2 separate regions of the Homo sapiens genome follow, and region 1 is linked to region 2. Evidence: fine-mapped expression QTL. A gene starts in region 2. The other region holds a variant in brackets. All regions are shown on one strand. Distances are from middle to middle. Region 1 overlaps NFAM1 (NFAT activating protein with ITAM motif 1). Region 2 holds the start of NFAM1 (NFAT activating protein with ITAM motif 1).

The links.
Region 1: its variant is fine-mapped to the expression of NFAM1 in whole blood (INTERVAL, PIP 0.96).

Annotation. Positions count from the first base shown.
Region 1 is chr22:42,378,162-42,386,480 of GRCh38, reverse strand. NFAM1 (NFAT activating protein with ITAM motif 1) reads left to right here. Exons shown (of 6, transcript NM_145912.8): 6 at 1,261-6,074. The coding sequence ends at 1,320. Among named protein-coding and RNA genes, the nearest start is that of LINC01315, 13 kb to the right of the region's middle. The variant C/T (reference allele first, on the strand shown) is at 5,073.
Region 2 is chr22:42,427,267-42,435,585 of GRCh38, reverse strand. NFAM1 (NFAT activating protein with ITAM motif 1) reads left to right here and starts at 3,183. Exons shown (of 6, transcript NM_145912.8): 1 at 3,183-3,349. The coding sequence starts at 3,229.

The DNA.
Region 1 (8,319 bases), 49 kb after region 2:
GCCTCAGGCATATTACCCAATCATACTTTCTCTCTTTTTTTTTGTTTTTGTTTTGTGTGTGTGTGTGTGTGTGTGTGTGTGTGTTTGTTTGTTTTTGTTTTTGTTTTGAGACAGAGTCTTGCTCCATCACCCAGGCCAGAGTGCAGTGGCGCGATCTCAGCTCACTGCAACCTCCACTTCTCAGGTTCAAGCAATTCTCCTGCCTCAGCCTCCCGAGTAGCTGGGATTACAGGCGCCCGCCCCTGTGCCCAGCTAATTTTTTGTGTTTTTAGTACAGACAGGTTTTCACCATGTTGGCCAGGCTGGTCTCGAACTCCTGACCTCATGATTCACCCACCTCAGCCTCCCAAAGTGCTGGGATTAAAGGTGTGAGGCACCGCGCCCGGCCCATACTTTCTCTCTTAAACCTGTTTGCTCATCTGTAAAGTGGATGAGCAGTGTTTTCCTGCAATACCAACTGCCTCTGAATTCAAATGTGTTCCAAGCTGAATAACATCTGCACCAGAGCTTCCAGCACCGTCAAGCGTGAGGCGTTGTTCAGCCAGAACAGGAGCCCACAGGCCTCTTGGAACATCTGTCAGGGAGTGCGGGCGCCTGGCACTTGGCCTTCTCTGGCTCGGGCTGGCACTATTTGTTAAATCGCCTGTTCTCAAAGCCCTTTCTATACTCAGCCCTCAACTAGACCCTGAGTGAAAGCAGGGACATCTCCGGCAGTGCCCACCCTGTGCCAGGCCCTGGGGTGCTGGACAGGAGAACTAGGCATGTCCCTACCCTCTGGGAGCCATAGTCTGCAGGAATAGGTCGCTGACCCCATGGACACACAGAGGCATTTGTAGCCCTGTTGTGAGGGGTGTTCTTCTGGGAGGGACCAGCCAGGGTGGGGAGGGAGGGAGGGGGTCCCTGGGACCCTATGATGAGCCCGCAGGCAGAGTGAGTAGGGGGCAGTCATGGAACAGGTGTGTCTGTGGGAGGAGGCGCATCCCACACATAGGGCAGAAGGCAGAGGGCAGAGCTGTGGGGGAAGCTCTGAGGCTGGAAGGGCAGGCCCATGTGGCTGGAGGGCAATGGGCAGGGGTGGGGGCAGCATGGTGGGGGAAGAGGCTGGGGAGGTGGGCTTGGAGACAGAGGGCAGGCCCCCCATCAAAGCTACACAGGAAGTGATCTGTTGCCCTCTGGCTAAAACTAAATTAGTGCAAGTTCATTCTTAATGGTCATTCTCTCTCTTTCTCTCCTTCCCTCCCTTTCTTCTTTTCTATCCAGGAGAGACCGCATAGATTCGAAGATGATGGCGAACTTAACCTGGTCTATGAAAATCTCTAGGATGGGCTCCACCGCTCATAGAGCTTGCCCTGGGTCAGAGGACCGGGGCAGCCCCTGCCACCAAAGGACTTGATCTGAGTTGGGAGTAAGGCCCCCAGGGACACCCCATCATTTCACCCTCACATTCAAGGCCCTTCCTGTCTTGGCCGGCCCCACTGCCCCCCCATTCTATGCCCCAACCACCAAGGCTTTCCCATCTTGGGGCCTTTGCCCAGGCTGTTCCTTCTGCCAGGCAGGCCCTTCCTCCCTTGGCCCAACCAGCAAAGCGCCCCTCAGTCTTCAAGGGCTTTCCTGGATGCCACCCTTGCCCAGAGCCCTGCTCACTGCCTCATGCTGACAGAGCAGCATGCTCTCTTGGCACCAGCCTGCACCTCAGCCAGTAGGGCAGCCTCTGAGCTGAGGGAGGACCCTGCAGGGGCGCCTAGCAGTGCTGTGTGGGGAGCCGAGGTATGGAGGAGCTGGGGAGCAGCTATGCAAATCCCTACCTACCCAGCTGGGCCAGAGGCACGAGGCAGCCAGGCAGGGTGGGAGCAGGGGCTGGCGTGGGAGGTCTGGGGGACAGACAAGGATGATGGACCCCTCAGAGGCAAGACTAGGATCAGGGACAGATCTGGAGGCCCAGGACATGGCTGAGAGGTGGTCAGCAGGCTGGGGGCATGGAGCAGAGAGGGCTTGGGTACAAGCTGGAGAGGAAGGAGATTCTGGCATGTTGGGGTGAGGGCAGAGGGACAGATGAGGGGAGGAGGGTGCTGGCTAAACAGGAACTGAATGAATGGCCTGAAGCTCCCTCTCCCAAGGGTTCCCACTCCCATTGGCCTGGCCCTGTACGTGCACTCTGTCATCTCCTTGGTCACCCTCTGCTCCAGGCCTTCTCCACCACAGGACCTCAGCTGTCCCTCCTTCTACCCAAGGTGGAGTCCCCCAAAGTCCCTTCTGTCTGGCCTATCCTGTGCCCACCACCTGTGGCTTCATCCAGCCCTCCTCCTCTATCTTTATCTGCCATAGGCCGCAGCCCTGGCCCCCTGTGGATTGAGGTCCCAAGTGGTCCAGCTGTGGGGTTTGGTGCTGGGACCCTCAATGGCAGCCGGAAGGTCCCTCTGAGGCAGAAGCTCAAGCCCCATGGGGACAGTGGCTCCCCAGTGCCTGGCCCTGAGCCATTTCTGCTGTTTCAGGTGCCCACATCACCCTCATTTCCTCCTCGCAGTAGCCCTGCACCGTGGCCAGAAACCCATCCACAGGCAGGCAGTGGCTGGGGTCCGGGTGCCCCGGGCTGTTGGGCTCTGCTTCCTCCCTCTGCTCCCCCATGTCTCCCTGAGTTCTCCCACCTTTGCTCATTTGTAAAATGGGCAGGTCAATCTTCCCACCCCACCGTGTGGGCTGCCCCAACCCCAAATGTGCCCAGGGAGGGGGGGGAACCCAAGGCACAGGCCCCGCCCCTGCCCCCAAGCAGCACTGGGCTACTGGCTCACAGAAGCACCTTTGGTTCTGCAGGTCATGCCCCTCCCTGCAGGGAAGGGAAAGCTGGTGGTAGAGGCTGGGCACAGACTGACGTCCAGAAGAAGTCCCTTGGCCCTGCTAGGGTGGCACCAGACTTCTCTGGTCCCACAGGACAGCCAGTGGCCTCCCAACTTGGTTCTGGGCCCCCGCCTGCAAGCACACATGGCAAGGAGGGCTTTAGCAGGCTCACATAACCGAGTGGCAAGGCCCCTGCTCCCAGAGGCTGGATTTGAATGAACTCCGGGCCTGTTTGGGGAGGTGAAGCTGCCAGGTGTGCACAGGGGCCTCCCAGGCTCCTGGCTCCACCAGCCAAGGAGGTGGGGGCAAGGGTCAGGGCAATGGGGGACAATGCCGCTCAGGGTGCAGTGAGCTCCCCTGGGAAAACCGAAGCCAGCAAGACCAGGAGAGGGCCACCTCACTGGGCCTGCCTCCCCCACCTCCTGGGCCTCTCTGACCTCAGCTCCTAGACCCTGGACCCTTGGCTGGGACTCAGCATTTTCCAGTCTTTTTCAGGGGTAGACAGGGGAGCCTGGGTTAAACTTTACCACTGTGCCCTGGCCCAGGCATCACCAACACGGCCTCCCTGCAGCTGCCCTGCCACCGACAGACCCCGATTAAACCCACACCTGGCCTTGGCCTCCCCTGCTCTATACCTTGCATGGTTTTTGCCTCACTTGGAATAAAATTCCAACTCCTCCCTGTGGCGTAGGAGGTTCTTGGGGGCTGACCCATCACCCCTCTGGTGGACAGAGACATTGCCAGCGTGGTGGTCGTCTGTGCTTGGTTCAGGGCAAGGCTGGGAGGCAGTGGGTGCTGAGGTCTTCAGTGAGCAAGGAGAGAGGCAGGGAGGAGGAGGAGGAGGAGGAGAGCACAGCATGAAAGGACGGGACCCTAAAGGGCTTTGGCCCAAGGGAGGGTGGGGCAAGAATGTTCTGAGACTTCTGTGGGCAGCAAAGAGGACTGAGCACCTGTTCTCCAGCCCCCAGGACTGAGAGCCTGCAGAGACAAGCTGGCACAGGGCGAGGGGTGGCAGGGAACTTCAGGGTGGGAGGTGCATGGGGCAGGCGGGAGGAGGAAGAACAGAGAGGGGACAGAGAGGGTATGAATGGGAGCTCCTGGGGTGCAGGCTTGCTTTCCACTATGAATGGGTGGAGGAGGGAAGAGAAGAAAATTGCTTTTGAGACCCACCCAGGCTGGGTGGCCTCAGGGCCTCCCTTGAATCCCTGCTCCACCTCCCACAGCCTTGTGGACTTGGGCAAGTCACTGGCCACCTGAGCCTCAGTTTGCAGTGACAGTCAAGACAGCTCAGGCCAGGCGTAGTGGCTTATGCCTGTAATCCCAGCATGTTGGGAGGCCGAGGCGGGTGGATCACTTGAGGCCAGGAGTTTGAGACCAGCCTGGCCAACGTGGTGAAACCCCGTCTCTACTAAAAATACAAAAATTAGCCTGGTGTGGTGGCACGCACCTGTAGTCCCAGCTACTCGAGAGGCTAAGGCAGGAGAATCTCTTGAACCTGGGAGACAGAGGTTGCAGTGAGCCGAAGTGGCACCACTGCACACCAGCCTGGGCTACAGAGCACGCTCTGTCCAAATAAACAAACAAACAAACACTACTCAGTGTCTCAGAAAGGACAGAAGGGGACTCCCTGGCTCAGGCAGAAGCTCAGTGGGTGTGCATTTCCTTCAAGACTCGTCCTTCAGAAGGAATAGGCTTCTGGGGCAGTACAGAGGAGTCTAAGTGAGAGGCAGGCCTCCCTGGGAGCTGGGCCCAGGCTCTCTGCAGCCATGCCTTTAAGGAGTGCCTACGGGGTAGCACGATCAGATGGACAGGCCAGGGCTGCCCAGAGCTGGGGGTGGGAGCAAGGTAAGCAGAGAGGTGAGGGAAGGAGGGTGCTGGCTTAGCAGGAGCTGAATGAATGGGCCTGGAGGGGAAAAGCTAAGGGGGATGGGGTGGCTTGAGTGGAGTAGGTGAGGCCTAGGTGAAGGGGAGCTGTGGACCTTCCAGGACGGACGGATGTGAGCAGTCCTGAGTGGGGACTGGAGTTAGGGTGGGGAAGGGAAGCCCCAGGCAGCCCCTGCAGGCCCCTGCCCCTGGGCCCTACCGCAGCAGGGCAGCCCTGTCTCTGGGTCTCAGCTGATGCTTCCCTCTGCCCACTGGCCCCTGACCTGGTGGGATTTCCCACCATCTCTCCCGGCCCAGCCTGCCCTGCCCTCCTAGGTCTTCCCAACCTCCCCTCTGCAGAAACATCTCAGCCA[C/T]GTCTGGCACCCCCAGGCATCCCTGCCTGCCTCTAGGAAGTTGACCCCTTCAATGGGTTTCAGCCTCCAACCCCACCCCCGCTTGACTCCTGCTCTGTCAGCACTTGCTTGAGAAAATCATCCTGGGAAACCAGCTTCTGGGAGCAGGGGCCTTGCCACTCGGTTCTGCGAGCCTGCTGAAGCCCTCCTTGCCACGTGTGCTTGCAGGCGGGGGCCCAGAACTAAGCTAGGAGGCCACTGGCTGTCCTGTGGGACCAGGGAAGTCTGGTGCCACCCTAGCAGAGGGCCCATGGACTTCTTCTGGAGGTCAGTCTGTGCCCAGCCTCTACCACCAGTCCAGAACTTGCAGTGGGTGCGGTAAACGGTGGCCCCTCCTCAGCAAACATTTCCAGGGGATTCTGGCAGCAGAGTTTCCATGGGAACATGTGCTGGTTCTGCGCTGAACCCGGTGTGGCTGGGGTTCCCTTCACAGCCAATATTGCAGGAACTGAGCCTGGTGGCCTCGGCCAGGGTAGGCAGTGCTCTTTGGCCACCCAGTGTCACAAACCTGAACTCAAGTTACAGGCAAAACCTGCTTTTCCTTTTTCTTTCTCTCTCTCTCTCTTTTTTTTTTTGTTAAAGCACATTCTAATGTAAAGTCCATGCTCCATTCTAAAGATGCCTCTGGGATTTCAGGGATGGATTTTTATGTAGTTCAATAGTTTTCTTGGCAGACAGCTTATGCAGGAGAGGTGGGCCGTTGGCTCAGTCCAGCCAGGCTGAGTGGCGTCACTCCATTCCTTGCAATGCCAGGGGATGTCATTTGTCCACCTGAGGGGGCTTCCCCAGTCTCCCTTCCCTGACCTGTGGTCAGAATGATGGCCTCAGCCTTGACTGAGCGCGGGTCAGGCCAGACTCTCTGAACTTGGTGTTGGCGTGTGTTTTGTGTGTGTCTGGAGGTGACATATGTGGGTGACAGAAGCATATGTTACAGTGAAACATTAAAACTACAGCAAAGTGAAACTCCTCTGATGCACCTGCCACCTCCCAGCCTCCATACCCGTCCCCTCCCCAGTAGTAACCAATCGGGTCATTTGGGAGTGTTTTCTTCGTCGCTGCTTTTATGGCATCTAGGTGTCTACCTGTGAACATGTAAAATGTGGAGCGCCGTGCGGGCTTCCGAACAGCCGCGATGCATTCATTTTGTAGGTGTTGTTTGCACTTGCTTTGTTGATGCAGCCCCACGTGGTGGGATCTGCCGGAGACAGCACACAGGAGCTGCCAGACTCCAATTACAGCAAAGGATCCTGCAGGACAGATGGATCCTAATTTAATCAGGCCCCCTATCGAAGGCCTTTTCAGTTGTTTATGATTTTTCAACCTCACATAAGGGGCTGCAGGGAACATCCTTGTACACACACACATCTGCAAAACTTTCCCTATGGGAAATGAGGAGGGATTCCTGGGACCCAGTGCATAGAAGTTCACTGTTCTAACAGTCACCACCAAATCGCCAGGCCCCGAGGTTGGACTGGTTTCTATTCCTCGGACTCTTTATCTAGAATATTTCATTTAATCCTGAAAATAGGTCTGTGATGGTGGGCAGGGGTGATCTCCCCATTTTATCGAAGCAGAAGCTACCACTCAGAACAGCTGACTGGCTCCAGGTCACACAGCCCAGGAGGAGCAACGCTGGGCTGCCTCGGCGTGTGTGCAGTCCTGCTGTCCCCAAGGGCATGTGTGCAGTCCTGCTGTCCCCAAGGCCAGGTAGGGGAGGTGATGGGGGAGGCAGAAAGAGCCATGGAGGGATGTGGTGTCCCCAGGAGTAGGGAAGCCCACAGAAGAACAGGTTTCCTTCAGAGATGGGCTGGCAGCCTCACATTCCTCTTATCCAATTTCTCAGAAGTGTGTGTGTGTGTGTGTGTGTGTGTGTGTGTGTGTGAAGTTGGGGGGGTCCTCCTGCCTCCCGGTATTCTATCTCTTTGGGGAAATGGAGGCAGATCCATAGAGCCCCAGGGGTTGGGCCTCCCCAGCAGCCCACGCCCACTGTGAGGCCTGGATCCTGGCAGCCTGTATGCTCTGATCCCAAGTCTACCCTGGAAATTCCCAGGCACAGCATGCCTGGAGGTGTGAGCCGCCTCTTAGAAGCTTTATAATCCCGGATAATGCTGCTGTAATTGGCATTGTTTTTCCATTACAATCCTTTCATTACCTGAAAACTGACTTTGCAAATGGCTATATCTGGAGTGGGTTTTATTTTACCACTTTGAGGACCTTGAGGGGCCGAGGAGTGGGGGCATTTTCTCTGTCTCTCCCTTGACTGCCCCATCCCCATCCCCCAGTGAGTTCCACAGGCCCAAGTGGGCCAGATCCTGGCCTTGGCTCAGGACATAGCCCTGTACCTTGCTGCCCGCCATGGGCTGATCCAGGGATGTCTCTTCTCCCCAGATGCCCCTTCTGTCCCCCTGCCATCAAGTCCACCCATAAGAGCCTCCCTCCAACCCCTCCTCCTCCCAGCCATTCCCAGTCCAAACAAGTCTCACCTGATCTTTCTATAATACATATCTGACCACATGATTCCTCTCTCAAAAGCCTGCCATACCTTATGGTAATGGTCAATTCATTCCAACAAGGGGGCCACCATCATTCAATGGGGAACAGTCTTTTCAACAATTGGTGCTGGGAGAGCCAAACCTCTACATGACCCCTACCTCACACCCTATACCAAAACTCACAGTGGTTTCCACTGTCCATAGGATCGGGGCTCAACCCCTTAGTCTCACATTCAGGGCTCTTACCACTCCTACCACTCCTTCACTTTTTTTTTTCTTTTCTTCTTTCTTTCTTTCTTTTTTTTTTTTTGAGATGGAGTCTCTCTGTGAGGCCCAGGCTGGAGTGCAGTGGTGTGATCTGGGCACACTGCAATCTCCACCTCCTGGGTTCAAGCAATTCTTCTGCCCCAGCCTCCCGAGTAGCTGGGACTACAGGCACGTGCCACCAGGCCCAGCTAATTTTTTTTGTATTTTTAGTGGAGATGGGGTTTCACCATATTGGCCAGGCTGGTCTCAAACTCCTGACTTCAAGAAATCCACCTACCTCGGCCTCCCAAAATGCTGGGATTACAGGTGTGAGCCACTATGCTTGGCTTTTTTTTTTTTTTTTTTTTTTTTTTTTTTTTGAGACAGGGTTTCCCTCCTATCACCCAGGCTGGAGTGCTGTGGTGCAATCTTGGCTCACTGCAACCTCTGTCTCCCAGGTTCAAGCAATT
Region 2 (8,319 bases):
CACCTGAGGTTGGGAGTTCGAGACCAGCCTGACCAACATGAAGAAATGCCATCTCTACTAAAAATACAAAATTAGCCGGGCGTGGTGGCACATGCCTGTAATCCCAGCTACTCGGGAGGCTGAGGCAGGAGAATCACTTGAACCCGGGAGGCAGAGTTTACGGTGAGCCGAGATCGCGCCATTGCACTCCAGCCTGGGCAACAAGAGAAAAATTCTGTCTCAAAAAAAAAAAAAAAAGAAAGAAAAGAAAAAGAAAACAGAGGCCAGTAATTGTGGTCTCATTTGGAAAGCCTTAGTCTTGGTGTCGAGGAGGCCCCTGGGGACTGCAGGGGACACCTGGGCTCCCCCATTTCCCCACCCAGCTTCCACCTCCTTCAGGGCTGCCACTCAGAAATTACTTTAACCTCCCTGTTCCTCAGTTTCCTCATCTGTACAATGGAGGTGATTAGAGTGCCTGCCCCATAGGGCTGCAGTGAGGATTAAACTGGCAAGGAGAGCAGGTCCCCTGGAGCAGTGTCAGGCGCTTGGAAGCTTCCCGGAACTGCTCTATTATTGCTTCACTCTGCTGAGGTTGCCGTGCCCCTAGGCTTCCCAGGGAGGCTAGGCTCTTTCACTTCTACAGCCTCCGTGAGGCCAGGGCCCAGGGCAGGGCAGGTGTTCAGTATACTGTGAGGCATAGATGCACGGATAAACGGGGAATGGACGGAGGTCTGGGCAAAAGCCAGTGGCTGAGACGTGTGGTCCCCAGGGACCTCACCTGCAAATTCAGCTGCCAAGGCCTAGCTCGAAGGCTGTGCCACTGAAGCTGCCCCTGGGACACCCACAGAGCCTCCTCATTCCTCTGCTCCGCCTTCAGCCTTTGGGGCCTTTACTGTTTATTCACAGCTCTGGCTGAGGGCACAGGAGAGGAAGCACATGAGAGGTGCTAGAAAGTTTTGGTAGAAATGAGGCTCCTGGATGCGCTGCGGTTTTATTTCTATCCCCCTGGCTCCCGAGGAGGATCAGGGCCAGACACGAGGCCCCGACAGCGCAGCCAGGGCTGCTGGGCTCCTTGCCAAGGTGCGTCCCTGCCTCTCCCCAGGAGGCTGCGTGGCTGCAGAGCGTCTCAGAAACTGGGCAATGAGCTGGGACCCTCAGCTGCTTCTTGTCCAGTCATGTCTGCGCTCCACAGCCCAGGGCCTGCCTGGGGAGTATGCACGCCTCCTCCCACCCTGCCTCCCAGAGGCTACCCCTTCCCTTGAGGCCTCTTGTGCACCAGCGTGGTGTTGGGCACCTGCCTTCATATCAAGCCTGGAGGAAGGCTTCTCCCTGCCTTATGCTCACCCATCCGTCCATTCCTGCACCCCCTGGGCCAGGCTCAAGAAGGAGAGGGGAGGAAGACAGGCAGCTCAGGCAGGCAAGCGTGGAAACCAGGTGTGCAGCAGGCTAGACCCAGACTCAGAGGCGGCAGAACTCCCGGGAGTCCGAGGTACAGAGTTGGGGTGTGGGGGGCACCGTGACAGGCTGAGAGGTAGGGTCAGTGAGCTGGCACAGGGGCAGGAGCGGAGGCGGCACCAGGGCTGGAAGAGCAGGCTCCCTTGTTCCGAGGCAGTTTGGCATTCAGCTGCCTCCCAGTGCCAAGTCGTAATGAGACTTGTAGAGGCACAGACCGATGCTTTTCCAATGCTCCCCGTGTACCCTGAGGCATTGACACGAGGTCTATCACCATGGCATCAAGGTGCTTAGACAACCTGCTACTCCCAGGAGCCAGGAATAGCGTGAAGCAGCGGGTCTGCATCTCACTGTGACATATGTGAGCATGTATCACTGTGATGGATCAACAGTCAATAACACTGGGGTCCCCGCCTGCCCCCTGCGCGGTAGGAAACTTCTCCTGTTCATATGTCTTCCTCCCCTGGTGGGCGGCCCCTGCTCTTGCCAGCCTCCCAGTGCTCGTGGCATTGGTGGAAACGTCTTTAGGCTTTCACTGTTCATGTTTGGAGCAGCCCAGGGAAAAGCATGTGTGCAAAGAACTGAAATGGATCTCATGATGCCGTCACCGGGGGCTGCAGCTGGACACACCTGAGCAGGCAGTAGCAGGGTGGGAGAAGGCTCGGACATCATACCACTGGCAGTTCAAATGCCCGCCCCACAGACCTGCCCTGATCCTAGGCATGTTGTTTTGCCTCCTGGGGCCGAGGTCTTCTCTTTTGTACAACTGGGATCATCACATTTATCTGGTGAGTGAAGGGACACCTGCAGAGAAGGGAGGTAAGCGCTCAGCATGCGCTGAAACTCAGCCACCTTCCCGCCTGCGTCTTCCATGTACCAGGTGCCTCCAGCTCCACCAGCCATCACCACACCCCAGCCCCTTTCCTCTGCCACTCCAGACACGCAGGCAGATGTGTGGGTGCCAAGGGTGAGGGGCTCCCAGTCTGCTGGGGAAGGGGGTCCCGGCAGCAAACAATTCCTGTCCCCGGCTGATGCTGCTAGAAGTGAGAGCAGGGGCTGTGACCTGCAGCCAATGGGGAAGCAGTTCGAGGGTCTCACAGTTGGGAGGCCGAGTGAGCTAAGCTTTAGGGCAGCCACAGGGAGGAGCTGACGTTAGAGATGGACCAGAGAGGAGGCGTCTCCTGGGCCTCTGCAGGGGACCCACAGAGGTTCTCGCTGGGTGAATGATGGGCAGCCTGCCTTTCACCTGCCCTGGGTGTTTGGCCCTCTCTAGGGCTGGGAACATGAGGCTCCTGCCCTTCACCCCAGCCTCCCTACCACCCCTCACCAAAAAACCTACCTTTGGTAAACACATTATTAAGGGATTCTCAGAATATTTTAGAGAAGTTTGTGTGAACATGCTTGTGGTCGTTTTAAAAGTGTTTCAGAAGTGAGAGGCTAAACCAAGGCCCGAAGTCACTCATGGAAATCCCATGATCCCTCTGCACAGTTACCAGTGTCTCCTGGACGGGGCCCCTGCTGGAAAGGGGCCGAGACAGGGTGAAGCCCACCAGGGGTTGGAGTGGGGAGGCTTGGGTCCCGTCTCCAGCTCTTCTTCTGGTTGTGTGGCCTGGACCAGTCTCAGTGCCAGGTTCCTCATCTGGCGGCCACCCTGCTGGGCTGTTCCAGCTTTGCTTCTGAGCGGAAGGTCAGGGGCTGCCAGGGAGGAGCTTCGTGGGGAAAGCAAAGGGGAAGCTGTCAGCGCCGGCCGTCCCCTCCTGTGAACTAAAGAGTCGCCGCAGACAAGCAGGCCCCCAGATGGAGAACCAGCCTGTGAGGTGGCGGGCCCTGCCAGGCCTCCCACGCCCTCCTGGGCTCCCCGCAGCCCCCTGGCTCCTCCTTGGCGTGCTGCTGCTGCCCGGGACCCTGCGACTGGCAGGTAGTGTCTGTCTTCCTCCTTCTCTCTACTCTCTCGCTCCAGAACATCAGAGCGGCTTTCATCCCGCCCGGCGCAGCTAATTCCCAGGGACCTGTCTCTGGGGATTTGCTGGTTGTCGTTTGAACGCTGCAGACTTCACAGGGGAAGCCTTCTGGGACCGAGAAGATGTTTAGCTAATGCCTTGCCAAGGTGGCTTTTGAAGGGGAGGGGGACAGCGCTCTCTCCCTCGCTGCTGTGACAGCTTTGCCCCAGCAGTCTGGCCTCCTGGCCCTTAAACAAGGAGGGTGGGCGCTGTGTGGCTGGGGCCAGGGGCGGGGCAGGGGGGAGGGACAGCTCCCCATCCGAGGAACCTCACGTGGCTGCTGCGGGGGACACTGCGTTGAACCTGGCAAGTGGTGGGGCTACCCTCTGGGTTGTTGCTGGCATTGGCCAGGGAGAGCGGGGAGAGGGGGGAGGGGGGGATACCAGGGCCAGCCACAGGGCTCTGCGCCCAGAGGCACAAAACTGTCAGTCACCAGAAAGGGTCTCACCTCCCAGTTCCTGAAACACAACCAGAGGCCAAGTGTTTTAGGATGCAAGTGTGTCTTTCCACGCCAGCGGCGCTCCTTTCCTGGTTCCAGGCTTTCTTGGAAGCTGGGTGGCCGGGATCCGAGCCAAGCTGTGGGGTAGGTAGCCTCAGGGCCAGTTCATCAGGCCAGGGACGGCCCAGGAGGGTCCCATTCCAGGGCTGCCAGCACGAGGGCTCAGTGAATTCTGCCAGATTCTCTCTGCCCCTCCTTGGCCGGGCAGCAGCCAACCCTCCCTCTGGCCAAAGGGGTGGCCTCCACTGTGGAGACAGGGTGCCTTCCTTTCTATTCTCTTAGTTTATGGGGCTTTCAAGAGCTGCCCCCACCCTGTCCTGCTGCACCCCCTCTCATGACCACAAATTAGGCTTTATGGAGCCCTTAGCAGGGCACGTACTGGCCACCCTCACAGCACCCCTTGGGGCTCCTATTGTCCTCACCTGCACCATTTTAAGGACAGGGAAAAGGAGGCCCAGGGAAGCCAGTTCGTTTGCTCAAGACCTAGCCGGTAAGTAGAGGCCAGCCTCAGCCCCAGGCCAGCCTCAGCCCCAAGCTGGGCCCCTCGGCCAGTAGGCTCAGAGGATCCTCTTACTTGTAAAGAATGTTCTTCACCGGAAACTTACCCTGGGGAGGCAAAGGCTGACCTGTGTGTACCTCCCCAGGCTGCAGCCCAGAGCCCTAGGACACCATCTCCTTTAATCCTGTGCACGCCTCGCCCCACACCCCAGACAGTTGGTGCAAACACGGCCAGACCCCGGAAATGCAGCCTGTTAGTGTCAATGTGTCTCAACTACAGTCATTTTTAATTTAATTTCCCCCCAATTCCCATCCTTTCCCTTTGTGTGGTTCCTCCTCCCCAAAAGACACCCAGCACACCCTGGTAACCGAGCAGTAAGAGGTTTTATGGGGTGCTACTGGGGAAAAGCTCTTTTGTAACAGTCTCAACTATAACAAAACATTCCCAGTGCCACCCCCTCCCACCCGGTATTGCAACAAACATTACATAAAAGAGAAACTGTTCTTTCACAAGAGGTGAAAACACCCTTACGGTGTCCTAGAGTCCCTTGGAGCAGCAGACAAACCCCCACCCATGATTTTTTTTTTTTTTTTTTTTTTTGAGAGTTTCACTCTTGTCACTCAGGCTGAAGTGCAATGGCGCCATCTTGGTTCACGGCAACCTCTGCCTCCTGGGTTCAAGTGATTCTCCTGCCTCAGCCTCACGAGTAGCTGGCACTACAGGTGCCCACCACCATGCCCAGCTAATTTTTGTATTTTTAGTAGAGACAGAGTTTTGCCATGTTGGCCAGGCTGGTCTTGAACTCCTGACCGCAGGTGATCTGCCCGCCTCAGCCTCCCAAAGTGCTGGGATTACAGGCGTGAGCCACTGTGCCCGTCCTGTTTTTATTTTTTTGAGACAGGGTCTCGCTCCGTCCACCAGGCTGGAGTGCAGTGGTGCAATCTCAGCTCACTACAACCTCTGCCTCCCTCACTCAAATGATCCTCCCACCTCAGCCTCCCGAATAACTGGAACCACAGCGTGTGCCACCACACCCAGCTATTTTTTAAATTTTTTCGTAGAGATAGAGACTCACAGTGTTGCCCAGGCTGGTCTCGAACTCCTGACCTCAGGTGATCCACCCGCCTTGGCCTCCCAAAGTGCTGGGATTACAGGCGTGAGCCACTGTGCCCAACCCCCAACCCGCTCTTTGTCCTACCCCTGTGCATCCCCCTTCATCTATCTGTCACTCCATGTCACACCCCTGCCTTCTCGTCTCAGAGCTTTGAGGGTTTGCTGGAAGGAATCTTGCCCCTCCCACATCTTCCAAACCTCCCCTGACCGTAACCATCAGCCTTAACCATCAGCCTGGTGCAACCAGCTCTGCCACCTGTCAGTACCAACCCAGCTTGCATCCCTCAGCTGTGTCCACAGGGGTGTCACTGAAGGCCAGCGTCCCTGATTCTGCATCGTATCCCTGAACTTGCGAGAGGATGCTGGCTTAGGAGTACAGGCCAGGGGCATTCATCTTCAGTTTGATTTTTTATTTATTTATTTATTTTGAGACGGAGTCTCGCTCTGTTGCCCAGGCTGGAGTGCAGTGGCACCATCTCGGCTTACTGCAACCTCCGCCTCCCAGGTTCAAGCGATTCTCCTGCCTCAGCCTCCTGAGTAGCTGGGATTGCAGGCACCCACCACCATGCCTGGCTAATTTCTGTATTTTTAGTAGAGTCAGGTTTTCACCGTGTTGGCCAGGCTGGTCTCGAACTCCTGACCTCAGGTGATCCCCCCACCTTGGCCTCCCAAAGTGCTGGGATTACAGGCGTGAGCCACCGCACCCGGCCCAGTTTGAATTTGAGCTCTGCTACTTGCCCAGGCACCCTGGGCAGATTACTTCTATCGCTATGCCTCAATTGTCTCCTCTGTTAAATGGATGTGATAACACTGCCTGCCTAAACACATCCTGAGGACTGAGTGCCCAGTATGTCATTAGTCCTCAGTGAGTGTCAGCCACCTGCCAGCCTCGCCAGAGCCATGGAAACTTGAGGTGCAGTTGGTGAGCCCACGGCCTCCAGCTCATCCTGGGTACCTGCTCCTGCTCCCAGCCATCCTCCTCCTCCCACTTGAGCCGGGACTTGGGCCTGTCCTCTGGCTTCTTGACCCCTCTGCAAAGCCTGCTTTTCTCAAAGGCAGCCACTGGTGGTCTCCCCAAGACAGGAATTGCTGGGGGCTTGGCTTTTCCAGGAGCAGCTGCAACTCAGCTTCCATGGGCCTCAGTCCTCCCCAAGGACTTTGGGGCTGGACAGACCTGAGTTCCAGGCCTGCCTTCTTCTGGTGACAGCTGTGTGACCTCAGGCAATTACTTAACCTCTCTGCACCTTAGTGTCCTCTGCAAATGTCAGTCCCCTCTCTGTGGCCTTTCCAGAACTCTGGGCTGTATTTATTTCTCACATATCCATTGAAAAGGACCGGTTCTAGGCACCAGAGGGACCCAGACGTGAACAAGCCATAGGCCCCACTCTCAGCCTGGTGGGACCGTGAGCCTTGGCCGGAGTTACCAGACAAGTTTGTTCTGGATCCAGGTGGTGTGCGCCTGTAATCCCAGCTACTCAGGAGGCTGAGGCAGGAGAATTGCTTGAACCTGGGAGGCAGAGGCTGCACTGAGCTGAGATCGTGCCACTGAACTCCAGCCTGGGTGACAGAGCAGGACTCTGTCTCAAAAAAGTAATAATAATAAAAAAAGATGTTCAGGAGCCCCTGCCTGCTCCCGGCTGAGACCTCCTGCCTCCCTTCCCGCCGCTCCGGACCTCTGTCAGGAGTAGCCTCTGTTTTTCATCTTTGTCTAAATCCCAATAAAGGACTTTCGAGGCACAGGCAGAGGTGGGCGGGGAGAGGCAGGGGAGTGCTGGAAAGGCTGCCCGCGGAGTGGGGACAGAGCGGGAGGTGGCTGAGGGAATGAGGGCTGAGAGCCCAAAAGGCAGGGCCAGGAGGGCCGGGAGAGGCTCAGCTTGACGGCAGGGGAAGTCTGACACAGGAGTGGGATGCAGATTGTGGTTGGGTGGATCACAAATGCCCCTCAGGTAGGGGTCCGGGCACACTCCCAGCGGGTCCTGTCTCACTGCTGTCTCCTCTGTCATGGTGAACTATCGCACAAAAACCGCAGTGCTGCGTGGTAAGCACTAGAAAACAAAGTCCTGTGTGACTCTCACCAGGTCAAGAATGAGAACATCCCAGTGCCTCAGAGCCCCTTCTACTCCCCTCGCCCCACAGACACTGCCCCGCTCCGTGCCCCACCAAAGGTACCCCCATCCCAGCTTGTGGGGGGATCACTTACTGGCATTTCTTTGTAGTTTTATCATTAGTACACATCCCGAAACCATATGGACTAGCTTTGCCTGTTTGTGAACTTTGTGTAATTGAAGGATACTGTGTGTATTCTCCGGTGACCCGCTTCTTTCACTGAGCATTATGTTTTTTAAGATAGATCCAGTCCACGATATGGCTGAAGTTCGTTTTGTTGCTATAGATAGAGCAAGAGTTGAAACCACGGCCGGTGGGCTAAACCCAGCCCACTGCCTCTTGTATGGCTTGTGAGTTATGAATGGTTTTTATATTTTTAAGTGGTTGAAAAAATCAAAAGGTACTGTGCGGACTCATGTGGCTTCTAATCCTTGACTCCCAGCACGGGACCAGCACCCAGCAGATGCTCAGGAAATGGTGACAATCAAGGATGAATTAAGCTCTGAGCAGGGTGGAGACGCGATGCCACAGGAGGGGCGCCTGGGGGAGGAGATGGAAGGGCTGGGTAGTCGTCCTCTGCCCTTCCTCTGCCCTCCCTGAGCCCTGGCTCCTCTCCAGCGTTGGTAGGGTAATGAGACCCCCTGTGTAGTGAATGGGAGGGAGGACACAGG